Linked DNA regions of Homo sapiens: region 2 is linked to region 1. The links come from fine-mapping of genetic effects on gene expression. A gene starts in region 1. The other region holds a variant in brackets. All regions are shown on one strand. Distances are from middle to middle. Region 1 holds the start of ANO3 (anoctamin 3). Region 2 holds the start of MUC15 (mucin 15, cell surface associated).

Evidence for each region.
Region 2: its variant is fine-mapped to the expression of ANO3 in thyroid (GTEx, PIP 0.94).

The regions. Positions count from the first base shown.
Region 1 is chr11:26,327,389-26,335,734 of GRCh38, forward strand. It overlaps ANO3 (anoctamin 3), which reads left to right and starts at 4,742. Exons shown (of 27, transcript NM_031418.4): 1 at 4,742-4,933. The coding sequence starts at 4,888. It overlaps LOC105376598 (a long non-coding RNA gene), which reads right to left and starts at 4,586. Exons shown (of 3, transcript XR_931138.3): 1 at 4,474-4,586; 2 at 4,132-4,247; 3 at 865-1,337.
Region 2 is chr11:26,569,097-26,577,442 of GRCh38, forward strand. All of the region lies in intron 14 of ANO3 (anoctamin 3), which reads left to right. It overlaps MUC15 (mucin 15, cell surface associated), which reads right to left and starts at 3,167. Exons shown (of 5, transcript NM_001135091.2): 1 at 2,945-3,167. The variant A/C (reference allele first, on the strand shown) is at 4,075.

The DNA of each region.
Region 1 (8,346 bases):
AAATCTACATCTAACTGGCTTTGTACTCAGTAGATGTAGATGTGGATAAAATATATCTTCATACAAGAAATGTCATTGCTCCCTGAAGGAGTTTTAGGACAATCATTCCCAGTGGAGAAAACAGCAGCAGCAGCAGCAAAAGCAGACCAATAAGGAAGAAAGCAATATAGGATTAAAAGAGTTTGTAAAAGGGTCTTTGAAACAATATTGGAAAGTGCTGCAAGAAAATATGGAGCCCCTTGAATGGTAAAGCAGTGAACATGGACTTGATGATTTTTGTTTAAATAAATTAAATTGTCTATTTTTAATAACATTATTGAAGTATGATTGATATACAAAGAACTGCACATACTTAATGTACGATGAGTTTGAACATATGCAAACACCTGTCATGCAATCACTACAATCAAGGCAACAAACATATCCACAGGATGTATGGGACAAGGTAGCTGATGACAGATTAAACAACATGGATTTAATCCTATAGGCAACTTGAAATAATTATTCAGATTTTCAGCAGGGTTCTAAGATATGAACTGCTGTTTAACCCATCATCACCTCCTTTGTCCCACACATCTCCCTTCTCTTGATGCTGTCTTCTTACACAAATCATTTTGTGTTCCTGTCTCTTCAAAATGCCATGTGCTCCAAGCACTTGAGAATTAATTTTTTTAAAATTCTGTTTTGTAAGACTTCTTAAGGCTGGACTCAGAGAAGGTTGAGGCTGCTGATTTTCCTCCATGACTTTATCTTAGACACACCCATCAGTAGTACTACTTCTGAATGCTACTCGGAGCATATAGCCTGGATATCATCAGGATGAATCTACTTAATTCTGCTGTTATACTGTCACATGTGGCCAGAAACCATAGGCTTTTAGGGAGAAAATTGTTAAATTTCACTCCATTTTTCCTTTTATGATAGTATATGACTTTTTTACAGAGCTGGTTTTTGTCTTTAATATACGGAGAGAAACTAGAAGCAGGAAAGTACTGCTTTTCCATTTCTGTTACCATTTAGGCAATGAGAAGTATCATTCACAATTCCAATTTTAATTAAGGCAGTGATTCATGACCCAAAGAGGCAGAAACAGGACTCTCTCAGTCCCTTTGACAGAGCACAATACAGAGAAACTCACAACTGGCTGAGCTGAGGGACCTATTTCGAAATTCAAAGGAATAAAAAGTCTCCCAGTGATGTAAACATCAGAGTTTCTTACCTCTCTGGGGAGCAAATGTTAGCAGGGGGGCTGCAAAGTTAATTACTTAAGGAGGACAGGAGACAGGTTGTGAGTTGTGGGGAGCAAGAGCAGCAGAAACATGAAGGGGAACGAAACCCTAGGTCCAAAGAGAAAAAAGAGAAAAATTGAAGTTGTAGCAAGACAGGTATATGGGTAGGGGGGTTGAAGATCTATGCATGTAATAAGGATAAAATCAACACATATCATTGATAAAGTATGAAAATGATAAAAATATATGAAAGTATAAAAAATATTACCCTTTACTCAACTTGCAAGCATGATTACTCCAGACATTTTCGCATGTTTATTTCTAGGCTTTTTTTTTCTACTTTGGAAAACAGAGTCAAGACTGTACTGTGTATTATACATTAATCATGCCCCCTCACTAAACATTATATAAAATACACATTTTGCATGTCATTAAAATTTGGAGAAAAATGTTTGAAGCTAAAAATAGTAGGAAAAAGCAACCCAACATAGTTCATAGTTAGCTTAGCTTTCCTTAATGAGGCTACTTGCTATCCATTCTTAAACTGTCCACAATGGAAATGTCAGTCCATCAAAATGCTTCCTTTTACCCCAACACAGAATTTTTATTTTGAGTTAAAAAAGAGGGCTTTTGCTCAAACTCTTCTTTCTACACTTCCAAAACGTACTTTCTTTCTTTACACACACACACACACACACACACACACACACAGAGAGAGAGAGAGAGAGAGGAATCTTTTTCTCTTTGCACTGCCTTTCTATAAAGCAGATGGTGCTTCAAATTTCCTCGGCCCCTCACAAAGCTGTTCCTCTAGCAACCTCCCCTAAAAGACTGATTTTAAAACAAGCAAAGATGTTCTTTGAATCCCCTGCTAGTCAATCTGGCAGTCCAACCTAAAATGTTTCTAATTTTAAGAAAAGTAATTAACTTTATGACAAGATAGTTTAATCATAGCTGCACCAAGGAGGTTAGGGTGCAAGGGTGTTAGAAATAATAACAAACATTCTTTCCTTGGAAAAAAATCCAATGAGGTTCAAAATCTCAACTCATTTCTAGTTCTGGCAGATACATATTTGCCTCCTGCTGGGTTTTGGATCAGGGAGTAGGTTGGAGAAAATCAGGGATCAACAGAAAAAGATCTTAGGAAGGTAAAGGTGATACCTGTGCCTAGAAATGTGGAATAGAGGGACTTAAATTTTTTTTTTTTTTTTTTGAGACGGAGTCTCGCTCTGTTTCCCAGGCTGGAGTGCGGTGGTGCGATCTAGGCTCACCGCAAGCTCCGCCTCCCGGGTTCAAGCCATTCTCCTGCCTCAGCCTCCTGAGTAGCTGGGACTACAGGCGCCCGCCACCGCCCGGCGAGGGGACTTTAATTCTTTTAACTAGTCCTGCTGACCAGGGATTGAATTAAAGTTTAAATTTCAAAAATATTTCTGATTCTAAAACCGGTGATTTAAAAGGGGGTTTTAAACATTTAAATGAGATCTACAGGGGTCATAACTGACTAGTAAGTATTGGGTGTTAGTTTTCTGCCATTCTTAAATTCATTGTCTAATCCTCACGTAGGAGAATTGGGTTGCATTAGAATCAATGAGTTGGTTCACATCAGAATGATCTGTAAGCTGAGTTCTATCAGAATTTTAACTCTGGATGAACAAAATTTAAAAAAAACATCCTCGAGCAAGTCATTTATTCTTCTCGGTTTCAATGCCCTCATCTATACAATATCTGTATTAAAAGCCCTTACGGAGACAGTCTCTGAACTGTGTTTTAGATCTTCATTTGGAGGTGAACTCACACTGAGTTCATTGTCTGTAACCAAGTATTTCTTCAATGCCTGCATACTGAGCTCTTATTGAATGCTCAGCATTTCTTTCTGGAAAGACCATTATGATACATTAAAGAAGGTAGCACATTGTTTGCTCTTCCTCCCACTGAGAGTAGAATCCAATTTCGCTTTTTGCTTCAGATGACTTTAAGACCAGTTACTGAACAATCAAGAGAGACTCTGAGAGATAACTGCCTGTCTGAATCTAGCCCACCTGCAAAATCCATAAGTAATAATAATAAATTTTAGTTTACAGCTTAGTTTCAGGGTAGTTTGTTATGCATCCATAAATAATTGGAGCATCTGTTTGTTCAAAGCTATATTCCCCTCATTCTTTTGTATCATGCACCACAGATGAATCAAACAGCATACAATAATAACTCAATATTTTTGAGGTATCGAAAGTTTGGAAATTTCTGCATATTTTTTATCTGCTTTTATTTGGATTATTCACCTGATTCTGAGTTGATTCCATAAAACTTCAAAACTGAGGAAGCAACGGACTCTCACGATGTGTCTGTTCAATAACATCTTACATCTTCCAGGAAGAACTTAGGGCTTTGAATCAGGGAGCAGAGATAGATGGAGGAAAGGAGATCCTACTGAAAAATGTGTTCAGCTAGCTTCTGGTCCTATTTTGGCCACTGCAGTTTGGTCTTTCAAAAGTTACTTCAAAGTGGGAGCTGAATGATGAGAACACACGGACACAATGGGGGAACAACACACACTGGGGCCTGTTGGAGGGGGAGGGAGAGCATTAGGAACAATAGCTAATGGCTGCTGGGCTCAATACCCGGGTGATGGGGTGATCTGTGCAGCAAACCACCATGGCATACGTTTACCTATGTAACAAACCTGCGCATCCTGCACATGTACCACGAACTTAAAATACATGGTGAAGATATAAATAAATAATAAAATAAAACTTCTCAAACTAAACAAAAAGAGTTACTTCACTTCTTTGGGTATCGGGTGCCTTCTCTTTCAAATAAGGTGTTGATTTATGTGGTCTTGAGAAATCTTTGTTGCTCTGATCTTAAGTTTCTTTTTATAATATTAGAATCATAGTTTACCTACATTACAGGGCTTTTATGAAGATTAAATCGAGCATCGTGGGTAGTGTTTTTTCAGCCCCTGTGACTAAGTAGGTTATAAATGGTCCTCAGTCATCATCATCATAAATGATTCAAGGCCTGAATGGCAGAAGAAGAAGAGGAAAACTCAAGTGAAAAGTGCTAGACATAGAACACAGCTTACCTAATAAAACATGCTACTGGCTAACTAAGCTGGGGTGGCTTTCTGCCCCCTCTACTTAAATTTAAGAAAGAAAAACAGAAACGTCTCTGCATCTGCCACTGCATACCCTCTCAGAGCACAGACCAACTTTGCCCTTCCTTAAAAGTCCCAGGGTTTACCTACCAACTTTTAGGAAATAAATAACCAGCCTCAAAGCTTGGCAAAGAGGGCATCAGTATCAGCTCTAGAGGTTTGCTCCGATTTATATCTCCTCCTCCAGTAAAGTCTTCTGCTCCCACTCCCAGCCAACCCCGCTCAACGCCCACCCCTCACTGTGGCACTGGACGCGCGGGGGATGCGGGGTTGTTCCCAGAGTAGCCGCTAAGGGGAGCCGGACGCTAGACCGCCCTCCCGCGTTCCCATGACAACGACACCGGCGGGCGCGTAGCCTGGAGAGCGAAGTGCCGGCTACAGCAGGTGTCGGATTGCAGTGCGCTCGCTGAGGCTCCGGACCTTGGAGCGTCTAGAGTCTGGCTACTGTTCCTCCGCCTCCCTCTCGGGCAGCTCCCTAAGCCGGCTGGGACGCGCAGAGTGAAAATGGTCCACCATTCAGGCTCCATTCAGTCCTTTAAACAGCAAAAAGGTCAGTTGGAATCTTGCTCCCCTCTCCCTGCGGGCGTCACTTCCCCCCTGCATGCCCTTGCAGTTGTGTAGGAGCATCCTTTGCAGGCTTATGCGACACAGAGGTGGGGAACTCTGTGAAGTTAAAAAAAAAAAAAAAATTAAATTCCTCTTCACTCTGCATCCTAGATGAGTGATTTTCTGAGCCTCCGCACAGTGCCTGGGAGTATCGGAATTCGTCATTTCAGGACTTGACTTAATGTATATCTCTGTGAAGACTGTTTCAATGCACTGCAGTAAACCCGCTTAGTAGGGATTGTCCGAATAGCTCAGTAGAGCTCTGAGGGGTGAGGACAGAAATGTTCAACAATATCTGCCGTCTTCTGTGGTTCAAATGTTGAGTAATCTTCACAAAAGTGTGTCTACTCCTTGAGACGCATTTACACAATCATAAGATAAATGAATTCTTGGGGGAGTTCCAGAGTTGGCCTGTTGCAGTTAAAGGGGCTCTGTCACTTCCTTGGGAAAATTTATTGTTTGCCCATGTCCCATGCTTGATTCTGGGTTTCAAGTTCTTGAGGTTAGGTTTCTCTTCTAGGGGCTTCGTATTATGTCTTTTAGTTTCTCCCTCAAGTTTCTTGCTGGGCATAGTGACAAGAATCTGTATGTTCAAGTTATCCTCACTCTTTGATCTTTGTTTCTTATTTGGTTTAAAAGGCTTTTTACAGAGCATTTTTATTTTGAGGCACATTCACAGTTTTTGGAGTTTTATTATCCAGAAGCATTAATTAACACAATTGCCACTTTGCTGAATTAATAATGGTAATTATGATACAGTTAACCATAGAGTGCCTTAGATGTGTGAATTCTGGAATGCTGAATTTGTTCATTCAAAGTAAATATTTACTTAAATATTCTCATCCCCACCCTCCAGATATTATTTGTATTTCTTTCATCAACAGTTGTTTTTATGTAGCTCTTTGACTTTTTTTTTTTTTTTGAGGTGGAGTCTCGCTCTGTTGCCCAGGCTGGAGTGCAGTGGCGCGATCTCGGCTCACTGCAAGCTCTGCATCCCAGGTTCATGCCATTATCCTGCCTCAGCCTCCTGAGTAGCTGGGACTACAGGCGCCCGCCACCAAGCCCAGCTAATTTTTTTGTGTTTTTAGTAGAGACGGGGTTTCACCGTATTAGCCAGGATGGCCTCCATCTCCTGACCTCGTGATCCGCCCGCCTTAGCCTCCCAAAGTGCTGGGATTACAGGTGTGAGCCACTGTACCCGGCCCTTGACTTTTTTGTTTGTTTTTAACAAAAACTAGATTAACACACAAGAAACAATTTCGAAGGGATTCCTGCGTAAGACAGAATATGGGACTGACTGAGTTTCCAGTTCCATAATTCTGTACTCAGTTCAAGCCCAAGTTCTCTAGGATGTTTCAAATATATGTTGAAATTGGGAGTGATGTGTGAGACTGTAGGGGTAGACAAAAATTTCACCTAGTATGCACTTCTACTTCAACTCTAAACATTTCAAATAAAGTTAAACTGCTTCAAGAAGTTGTGTTCTCTTTAATCATGGTTTTAAACATACATAAACTTTCAGAATGAAGACAAAGATGATAGGAACTTTGCAACAGCCTCACAGAATAAATACCTCCACTGATGCATTGGCTATGGGTGACTCATTTCTGGGATCTGGAAGCTTCAAATGGCCCCCACAACAATGTATTATGTATGGATACATGTTGTGTTTTTAAGAAGGAAATAATTGACAACTGTAGGTCCGACCGTCATTGCTCAAAGAGAGTGATAAGAAATTGTGCAATTGCTGGCATTTCACATTGTTTCCTTTATGATGCATTATGAGCCATTTAATTTCAAGTCTTCCTTTACTCTTTGGCACAAAAGGCAACTTCAGCAAAAGGATACAAATCTAGAGGAGGAGTACTCCGGTAGGAAGGAAGCAAGATTCATTTTAGCTAAGTGGTTCTGGTTAATGGCTTCTTAATCCTGCATGGGCATTAGGAAAAAAACAGACCAAATTGAGGATTAGCTATTTTTATTCTTCAAATAGGAAGAAGCAAAATAATTCTCTAGATGTGATCTGTCCTAGGAGGTATGCAACAACAACAACAAAACATTCAGATGTGCTTTTCACCATAAAATTAACCTGAAAATTGCACATTAAAATGGAGAAAATTCTGTAGTGGAACTCTGTACTCCTAGGTTCTAAGCTTGCGTTTGTTACTAGCTGAGAAATCTTCAACAAAGTGGTTAATTTCTTTGGACTTTGCTTCATACATAACATGAACAGAATACATTCCTAATCCCTTTGGCCTTTTCTGTCTCTCTTCCTCTGTTTAATGGGAGGGACGGTTTGCATATGAAGGCAGAGATGATTTCTTCTGTGACCAGATAAAGAGGAGAGCCTTGCTTTTAGTTTACTTTTACGAATTAATTTAGCTGAAAAATCCAGTTGATGGAATTTACTTTTGTTTTATTCAAGTGAGCTCAATGTCTCTTTTAAAAATTTTGATTTCAACTTGAAAATATCTAGAAATAGCCTGATATAACTAGAAATCACCCTTGTTATATTATTTTTAAAGTTTCCACCCTTAATTGAAAAACAGACACACTCAATATTTAAACTCTACACAAGGCATAGGGATTCTCCTTTATATATGAGAACTATGTATTAACCAATCCCCGATCAAAATTGGTTTTGATAGGTAAGTATAAGTATAGTATAGATAAGTATAGATGCCAGACTGGTTATCTGGGAAATGAAATACTGTATGTAAGCCCTAATTTATTAATTTAATCTCTGGTCTTTATTTTGAGCCCTGGATATTAATCCAATATATTCTACTTACAGGTTATGTCATTTAATATCACTAAGCCACAGTAACTGCTTATGTGAAATGAAGATAATTATGTCTATCTTGCAGAGTTATAAGGTGTTTAGCAGTTTGTCTGACACACAGTTGGGGCTCAAAAAATTTAGTGATTTTCCTTACTAAAATTCATCTAGGCTCATTCACCTTTGGTTGGCTCTTTAGTAGTATATTGGACTCTTAGCAGTTCCCTTATAATTTCTTGCCTTTTTTTTTCTTTTGCATCACGCAGCTTTATTACTTTGGGATTCATCTTAAGGAAAACAGTGGACTCCAGACCATCTATGGATGGTTTTTTAAAATAGTCTGGAGTTAACTATCACAAACTCTCCTCAATTCATATGTCCATCCCTCAGGAAAACTTCCAAAAAATTCCCATAGAAATTTTTAGGTTTGTAATTAACTTTATAATCTAAAATGTTTTTGCAAGAAATGGTATTTATTTACTGTCCACTCTTAAGTACCATGCTTTTGCTGCGTGTATGCCAGGGACTGTGCTTAATAATAGCATTATTCAGTCCTCTTTTGTTGCTGAATCTGTTGC
Region 2 (8,346 bases), 240 kb after region 1:
TGAAAATCTACACATCAAGAGTCAATAAAGTGAATTCTGTTGTTCCTGTTTCACCTTGCCTGTGACATTGAACCACCAAGGGGATCTCTCATTCCTTTACCCAGCTTTTGATTGTAACTTGAAAACCTAGGGTATCAACACCCCCAAACGTGCGAAGCACTCTGTTACTGCCTATAATTTATCTCCCAGGAAAAGGAGAGAAATGGAAGAGAGGGGTAGTTCAGTATGTTGTGAATACTATTAAATATTTATGGTTTATTCAGAAATTTATACACTACAGATAAGGCTTTTGTGAAGACGGATTGTCCTGACATTGCAGTAGGGACAAGTTTGCCTCTGCTGCCTGGCTTCTAGGAGAGCCAGGTTACGCCACTTACTCAGGTTCCTTTCATCTTAAAGTCGTAGAAGCAGCCAGGAATTGAAGTCATCCGTTATTCAGAACCCCACCATGAAATTTTGCTGGAGTAAGGTCCAGGAGATTTGGCCGAAGTTTGACCTCATGCCAACTGAACAAAGCACATTGCAAGTGACAGAAGCCTAATGGAGGTGGGACAGCAACTCCAGAGGGCAACAAATGAAATCTATATATGTTTTACTTTCGTGTGTGCTTTCCTTTTAGCCTCTCTCCATCTCTGGAGTTCAAATATCTAACTCTATGTTATATACTTGCTTTATAAAGCTGAAATGATGATGGATTATGGATGGTATCCCTGAGTGCACCCAAGTTCATCTGTCAGCCAGGTGCACTGTGGGGGCAGACAGAAGGTGGGATGAAAGAAAAGTAGAATTGCAGAGGGAGAGAAATCAGGAGAACCCAGTAATGATTTCACCTCCTGATCTTTGCCTCTTTTTGCATCTGGGTGGTAGCTCCTAAGAGAAATTTTGAAGTTATAAAATAGAGGTTTAGGATCATCACAAACTCGAAAACCTTCTAAAGGTAGAATTACTATAAAGTGAACAGAGAAAGAAAGGAGGATTTCCAGTTCCTTTGTGATACCTTAAATACAGATTCTAAACTTTCCTGTATATATTAACATTTTTTTTGTTTTAAAATTTAACTAGTTTTAAAATATATTTTCATAGTGTCACTGTTTTAGAACAACTCCTCTACAGAGGGAGAATGAACACGACTTTCGCCTTCTTTGTTACTGGCACTGGAAAGTGGTTTCACATTATTACTTTTGTATGGAGGGCTGCAGAAAGTGATGAGAAAAAACAAAAACAAAAAACACCTCTGGCCAGTAAGGGAAGCAAACCCACATTCACTGTCCATATTTTTGCTTCCTTTTAAATGCATAAAGTCATTATTCTGTCCAGGCTCTCTGTTGAAATCGTGGGTCATACTTATTTTATACCAAGCTTTGGAAATAAGGAGATGTCCTGGTTTATGTCAGGTAATTAACCCATATAAGGGCAAAGAAATGCTACTCATTCTAAACAGAATCAAAATCAGAAATTCTAAATAGAATCATCAGTTCAGGTATACTGCAGGCATAATATAAAAACATGTTTCTATAGTAAAATCACTGACGACTATACATTGGGCTGCCTTTTCTCCAAGTTGTGTTTGATCATTTCTTCTCACAGATGTTAGGCTACAAATTAAGACAGATGGGTTTTGTTTGTCTCTCAAAGAAAACTCTGTCTGCTATGTAGCTAACATCTCAGGAAGAACTTGAGTGTTACTCTGAGTGACTTTTTCCAATGTTGGACAGTATTTTTAGTTTCCTAAATTCAAGAGCAACAATAAATGAGGACATAAGACATCCTTCTAAAAATGCCTCTTTTATGAGAGGGTTTTGGAAGCGTAACCAACTAGAAAAAGGATTGTGACTGAGAAACTTAGGCCTCTCATTTTACTTTTATGTGATGTAAAAAGAAAGAAAAAATAAAAAAGAAAAGACTGGCTTTCTTTCAAGAAAAAAACAAATTTCAGAAGTTTGAGAACATTATTCTGGCTAAAAGACTTAGGCTATGTAACTACAGGAAAAATGTAGAGTTTGTCATATGACCTGCTACCTTGGGAGTTTTCAGTCATAAAATTCAGTACTTAACTAATTAGTGATGAGTGTCAAGCTTAGAAAGAAAGAAAGTTTCTCCGAAAGGAAAGTTCTAGATCAAAATTTTCAAGCATAGGGTTTCCAGCCTTCTGTATCATACTGTAATGTCTATAGGAGCAGCCTCTACAGACTAAATAGAAAGTAGATAAATGGAAATCAGCATCCTTTTAATAAAAAAAGAGGCTTATATAGCCACAAAATGAAAATAATTTTAAGAAATTTTACCACATTTTCATTTCATAGGATGTTTTCTGTAGTAACTGATGTAACCTTTTAGATTTCCAGTGAAAGTTAGACATGTACACATATCATGCTAAATAATTATATGTACTGTACAACAGTTTCCCAACTTTTTAATTAAGAAAATCTTTGAAAAAGATTTATAGAAGCTTCTAATCTATTTTATTAGAAGATTTTTTCCAAAACTATTCTAATACTTAAAGCAAAAACCTCTAATACTTAAAGCAAAAACCTTTCAGCACAAATGCATAATTTAAATCTAAGATTCAATTTATATTCATGCTGCCACTTCCACTTTAAACATTTTGAAACCTTTACTAAGATCTGACTTAAGAAAATTCTATTTCATAGTCACGTATGTTTTAAATAAGGCTTTTATTTAACTCTTCTGCTGGTTCTGTAATCTAGCAAATTTGGCAGTAATTTTTAAAGCTAACTCATTTAGGAGTGCAAATACTCATTTGGAAGGTCATTACTTAATAAAACAACTACTTGTCTCTGCAAGGATTGCCGTAGCTACTTGCCAGGCTGTTCTGTCAAAGTTGAGACCACTGCGATTCTCTTTGGTAAATAATCAAGGAAGAGAGAGAGTAGAGAGTGAAAGAGAGAAAGCGAGAGACCTAAGTGACCCAACGCACACTTACCTTCAGGCTTAGGAGGTATTTACAATCAGGAACTGAAATATCACAGTTGTCCTGTCTGAAAGGAATCTGTCGTGCATTAGAGAAAACAGATGGGTTAAGTGTGACAATGTCGCACTGAGCAGGAGGGTGCCAGGGAAACAAAATTAGGTGGGGCTGGCTGTATCTTGCTTGTGTAACAGAGCGCCCAGGAACCTGACTGACCTGCTTCTCAGCTGTAAGCATTAAGATATCACCTCATTCAGGCCTTTAACAACAACAACAAAAGCCCAACCCTCCAGTTTTCATAGGTTGATCGTTTTAGCTTTGGGACAAGGTATTACTCTCGTCAGTGGTAGCAAAACACGGGTCATCAATTTTTTTTTTCACCCTAAGTGAAAAAAAGGACAAAGATTTTGGCAAAGTCATCTGGTATAGCAGGAATTTCTGACATGTGCTGGGCCCCCTGCTCCTTGCAGGTGAGGAATCCAAACAAGTCATGCCCTGCACTTGTTGCTCTATGCCAGCCGCACATTCTCTGAAATCATAAACAATTTTTCTGTACTCTAGTAGATTGCCCTATTTGTGTACTTAAAGCCTAAGTAGAGAAAATGTAGTGGGGTCAGTAGTGAGGCGTCTATTCTGAGGTCCACTGAAATTGTTTTTTTAAGAAACTCCTACTTAACACAAAGTGAATTAGTAGCATATATTGGGATCCCTGAGAACGCTGTGAGGTGTTACATGAAAAATAATCATCATGACTGAGATTCGGTTTCTTGCTGACTTTCAGGAGTTTGGAGAGGAACTGGGGCCTGAGAATGGCCATGTGATCCTCACTTATCCTAGGAGCCTTCTCGATTAAGTAGTTTCCACCCTGTGTTCTCTCTGGTTTACTCTCACTTTAGAAGCTGGAGAATTTCAGAAGTGCCCAGGTAATGCTTGATTAAATACTAGAGTTGAATAACAACTTGGCATACTTCCTACACTTCCTTTCAGAGCTTATGAAAGGGAGAAGAGTGAAACTGGGATCTTCCGCACATCAGCGTTTGGGGATGGCGCCAAGGGCCGTTCAGCTCAATATGCCTGAGGTTCATACTTGGTTTCTGCTGCACAAGGAGATAGGTTTTCAACTGCTGAGCGAGAAACGAAACTTT[A/C]GCTAAAATGCAGGAGCTAGTAAGCTTCAAATGGAATGCAAAGAATCTGCCCAGTTAATTGGCCCGAGGAAAGAACAAGGTAATTCTATAGTTTTAAATTTTCTGAAGCCCAAAGGCCCCTTCAGAGTTTGATTAGAAATTAAACCAACCCCGAAAAAATATTGTCTCAAAAGATATTTAAGCTGTCTCTACTGTGGTACGAAGAAAAGCAGGTTAAATTTAATCAAACAGTTAGTTACTGAACAGTGGCTTAATAGAATTCAATGGCTTATTTTCAGATTAGCCACTTTTTAGGTAAAAATCCAACTAAATATATTTTCTGTTTGTAGTTAGAGAACTGAACATGATTGGGCAGGACTGGGTGCACCTTTTCCCTAGGCCTTTTCTGCAATATGTGTGGGAATATCATTATCCCCTTCTGCCTTAACCATAGTAATTATGGCTTATACCAGGCATAAACATTGCAATGCACTTTTGCTATAGCTCTCCGTTTTCACTGCCATAAAAGTCCCGCTAATTTCTCATGTTGCTTTTTCCTGAAGACCCTTTCTGTGGGCCCAGAATCCTATTCATCATTGCCCTCCTTACAATCATAATCAATTGATTAGACCTCACCCTAGAGATAAACCTTACCTACCCTCACTGTCTTGAGCACATCTGGAAATAAACTTATAAAATGTAAACTGTACGTAAATTTAATGCCTCAGTTGTTACTTAGCTCACTTAGTTGTTATCAGAAACCTTTGTTTACTCATGGAGTTGGAGTTAAAAAGTAATTTCTAGCCAAACAAACAAGTTTCACTGAGATACAGTCCTAGGTTCTAGGTAAGACCAATCCCACTTTAGACCTCCTTTCTCCAGAGGAACTCCACAATGAGAGATAATTACCTGCAATTTCATCAGCAAACCCAGCTGAGATGACACACTGTGCAGTGCTTGTATAATTTTTTTTGGTACTTACCCACTATGGTGCCTTTCATCTGGCACTCACCAATTGCTTTACACTCATTAATTACGTTTCACAATACATACTGGGAGGAAGAAAAACCTCTTCCTAGTCTGCAATGATAGAACCACTCACAAGTGGAGTTTCCAGAACACGAAGACACATGAATATCACTAATGGATCTGAATACAGAAGCAGACATAGCTTGGGACCACACTTCAAACTAATTGAAAACATTGTTTTGAATCCAAAAGAGTATCTTTTTGTACAAATCCTATAGCATCAAATCTTGATGCTGATGTCACATGTAGGGAATTTGCATTGATCAGATTCACTGATAGCATATTTAGTCTGATACAGGCTACAAGTGGAATTCATGTTTGTTTCCCCATAGGGACATAGGTACTTTAAGCAAATAAGAAATATTTGAATAATAGTAAAATAAATTACATTATGAATCTATTATTTGAGAGTATTTTAATGATATTCTTTATAAATAAAATAGAATTTAACGGCTGGGAAATGTATTTGGGGATAACATTTAATTTATTTCAATATTCTATTAGGATAGAAATAGAGGGATTATTCTCATAAATGCTAATGGTTGTTTATTATTCAAGTTTATCTTTCTCTGGTAAGTAATATGGTGCTATAATAAGATCTTCTTCACTTAACTATAACTTTTTGGAAAGGTCAAATATTCCATTTTGGGGTTAAGGAAATTCTAGGACAATGCCCTTGGTTAAGCAGAGGTTATGATATTGCATATACATATATGCAAGTATACATACTTGCATGCATACATACATAAATGGTGAGCTAAAGAAAGTTGTAAACCTGGTCAATCAACTAAAAATAACTTTAAAGGATAGATCTTTATGTGATTTGGGGCATTTAATTCGACCATAGTTAAAAGAATTGAATGATAAGACTATAGCAAAACCTGTTGCATTTCTATCTATATATTTATGTGAACCTGTTTTCTTAGTAAACATTTTGAAATATAAAATATATAATTGAAAATACCATATTGTAACAATATAAAATATGAATTGAAAAACAAACACAAACCCTATTGATATCCTTAAGAATATAACAGTCTTAGATTTTGCATTTAATATTCATTAAAATTTAAAATTGATTATATTGTTTTATTACTTCTGATGATTACTCAATTCTAATTGTTTTTTAAGGTAAGAGCCTAATGGTCACAAGAAATTTTAAAAATTTAAACAATTGCTATCTCATTTTTAAAATTATTTTAGAGTACTATGCAAGATAATCAACACTTTCAAACATAAATATATATTAGAAATATTTTGAAGTAGAAATTGGATGGAAATAGATTTAAAGATAAAATGAACAATTTAAATTTTGCAACAGATTAGTGCTTTTTAAAGGTATATTTTTAAAGAGACACAATTAGGTATAAAATACTAGTATAAATTTATTTTAAAATGTCCATTTTTATAAAGCACTGGAAATCATAACCTTTACGACTATTTAAATATATAATGGAAAGAAATTTTGTACAAGGAGATAAATAATTTCACAAAATTATTTTAGCGATTACACAATCATTTTCAAAACCACTGACATTGTGCAGCTATTAAATTCAGAGTAGTAAATCAGACATTTTCAATAATTTCTATGTGATGGCTAATAGTACTTGAAGCTGTTCATAGGTTTAAAATATTTTCTTGGGTATTTTTCTGTATTATTTAGGGTCTCACATAGTGTCCACTATATCTTTTTATCTTCCCTTCCAGTTCTAGCCAAACAAAAACAAAAAAGGTAGAGGATAGCGTTGTTACAAGATGATGGAAACATTTAAAAAATAAACAATACTTTCTTCAGAATGATACTTTTGCTGACGTGATCATAGTCCGCACATGTTAGCAGAAAGACTTTGTCGCTCAGGTGGCCCCATGAAATCTTTATTCAGTGTTAGCACTCTGGGGCTCTGTCTCTGGCTAGATTCTCCAGATTTATAATCACCAAGGAAGCAGTGTGCTGAGTAGAACAAGCTCAGGCTACCACGTCACAGTTTCTTTGTTTTGAATCCTGGTTTTGCCACTTAATGGTTTCATAACCTTGGATAATTGCCATCACGTTTCCAAGAATATTTTCTCATTTGTACAATAAAGAAAGTGACACTACTTCTTAGTTGTGTGTGGAGTCAAGTTAAAATAGATAAAATAATTGTGTGTTACTGGACACTTAGTAGTCAAACTCAATTAGACTTAATTAATTATAAATATAATAATTTTTTTGGAGATGATAAAAATTGAGGCTTCAGTGTCAGCATGAATAAATGTTGAGAGGAATCTAACTAAGTGTACAAGCACATATTAGATTATTTTGAATTTGCATCTCTCAGCACATAGTAGTTACTCAATGAATATTAATTTCATGAAAAATGAATGAGTAAACTCTTCTTTATTTTTACCTGAATTTTTCCCTGCCAGAGAGGCTTTCTCTGATCACACTTTGTAAAACTGAAACCCTTTTTTCCTGACCTATTCTCACTCCTCCTGCTGCATTTTCTTCATAGCACTTATTGCCATCTAACATACTGTATATCTTATTTATGTATGTATTTCTTATCTAGTCCCATACTAGAAAAGTCAGCTCGTGACAGCTTACGTTTTTGTCTGTTTTCTGCATTGCTTTATCCACAGGGTTAGACTAATGCCTTGCACAGAGTAAATGCTGGATAAACTTATAAGTGAAAGATTAAATGAGTGAATTGATAAAAGATTGAATAAATATTAATATATTTGTCAACAATAATAACAAAAAGTGAATATACTATTCATGAGACAGCTGTAAGTTTACTTTTTCTTCTTTTTAGAATATTCTTCTCAACGTTGGCCCATTCAGATCTGAAACTTGACTTTTTTTTCACTTAAGGACATTCCTTGGCCACATTTATATGATTGTGAGCAGTTTTCTTTGGTAGGTGGTTAGTGATAGGAGCCATTTCACAAGAAGAGTTGGCCTTAACTAGAGATGCAGAAATCTTCTAACATGTAAGAATGTAGAGGATATGGACACAAGGATAGATAAGTGGGTAGATATGGTTTTGGTGGTAGTCATGTAGACAGAAAAATTGTCAACTGAGAGTATAGGTATCAGATTTTTTTTAAAAAAGAGAGAGAAAGTGGCTGGGCATGGTGGTTCACGCCTGTAATCCCAGCACTTTGGGAGGCTGCGGTGGGCGGATCACCTGAGGTTAAAGACCAGCCAGGCCAACATGGGGAAACCCCGTCTGTACTAAAAATACAGAAAAAAGAGGTAGCTGGGCATGGTGGCAGATGCCTGTA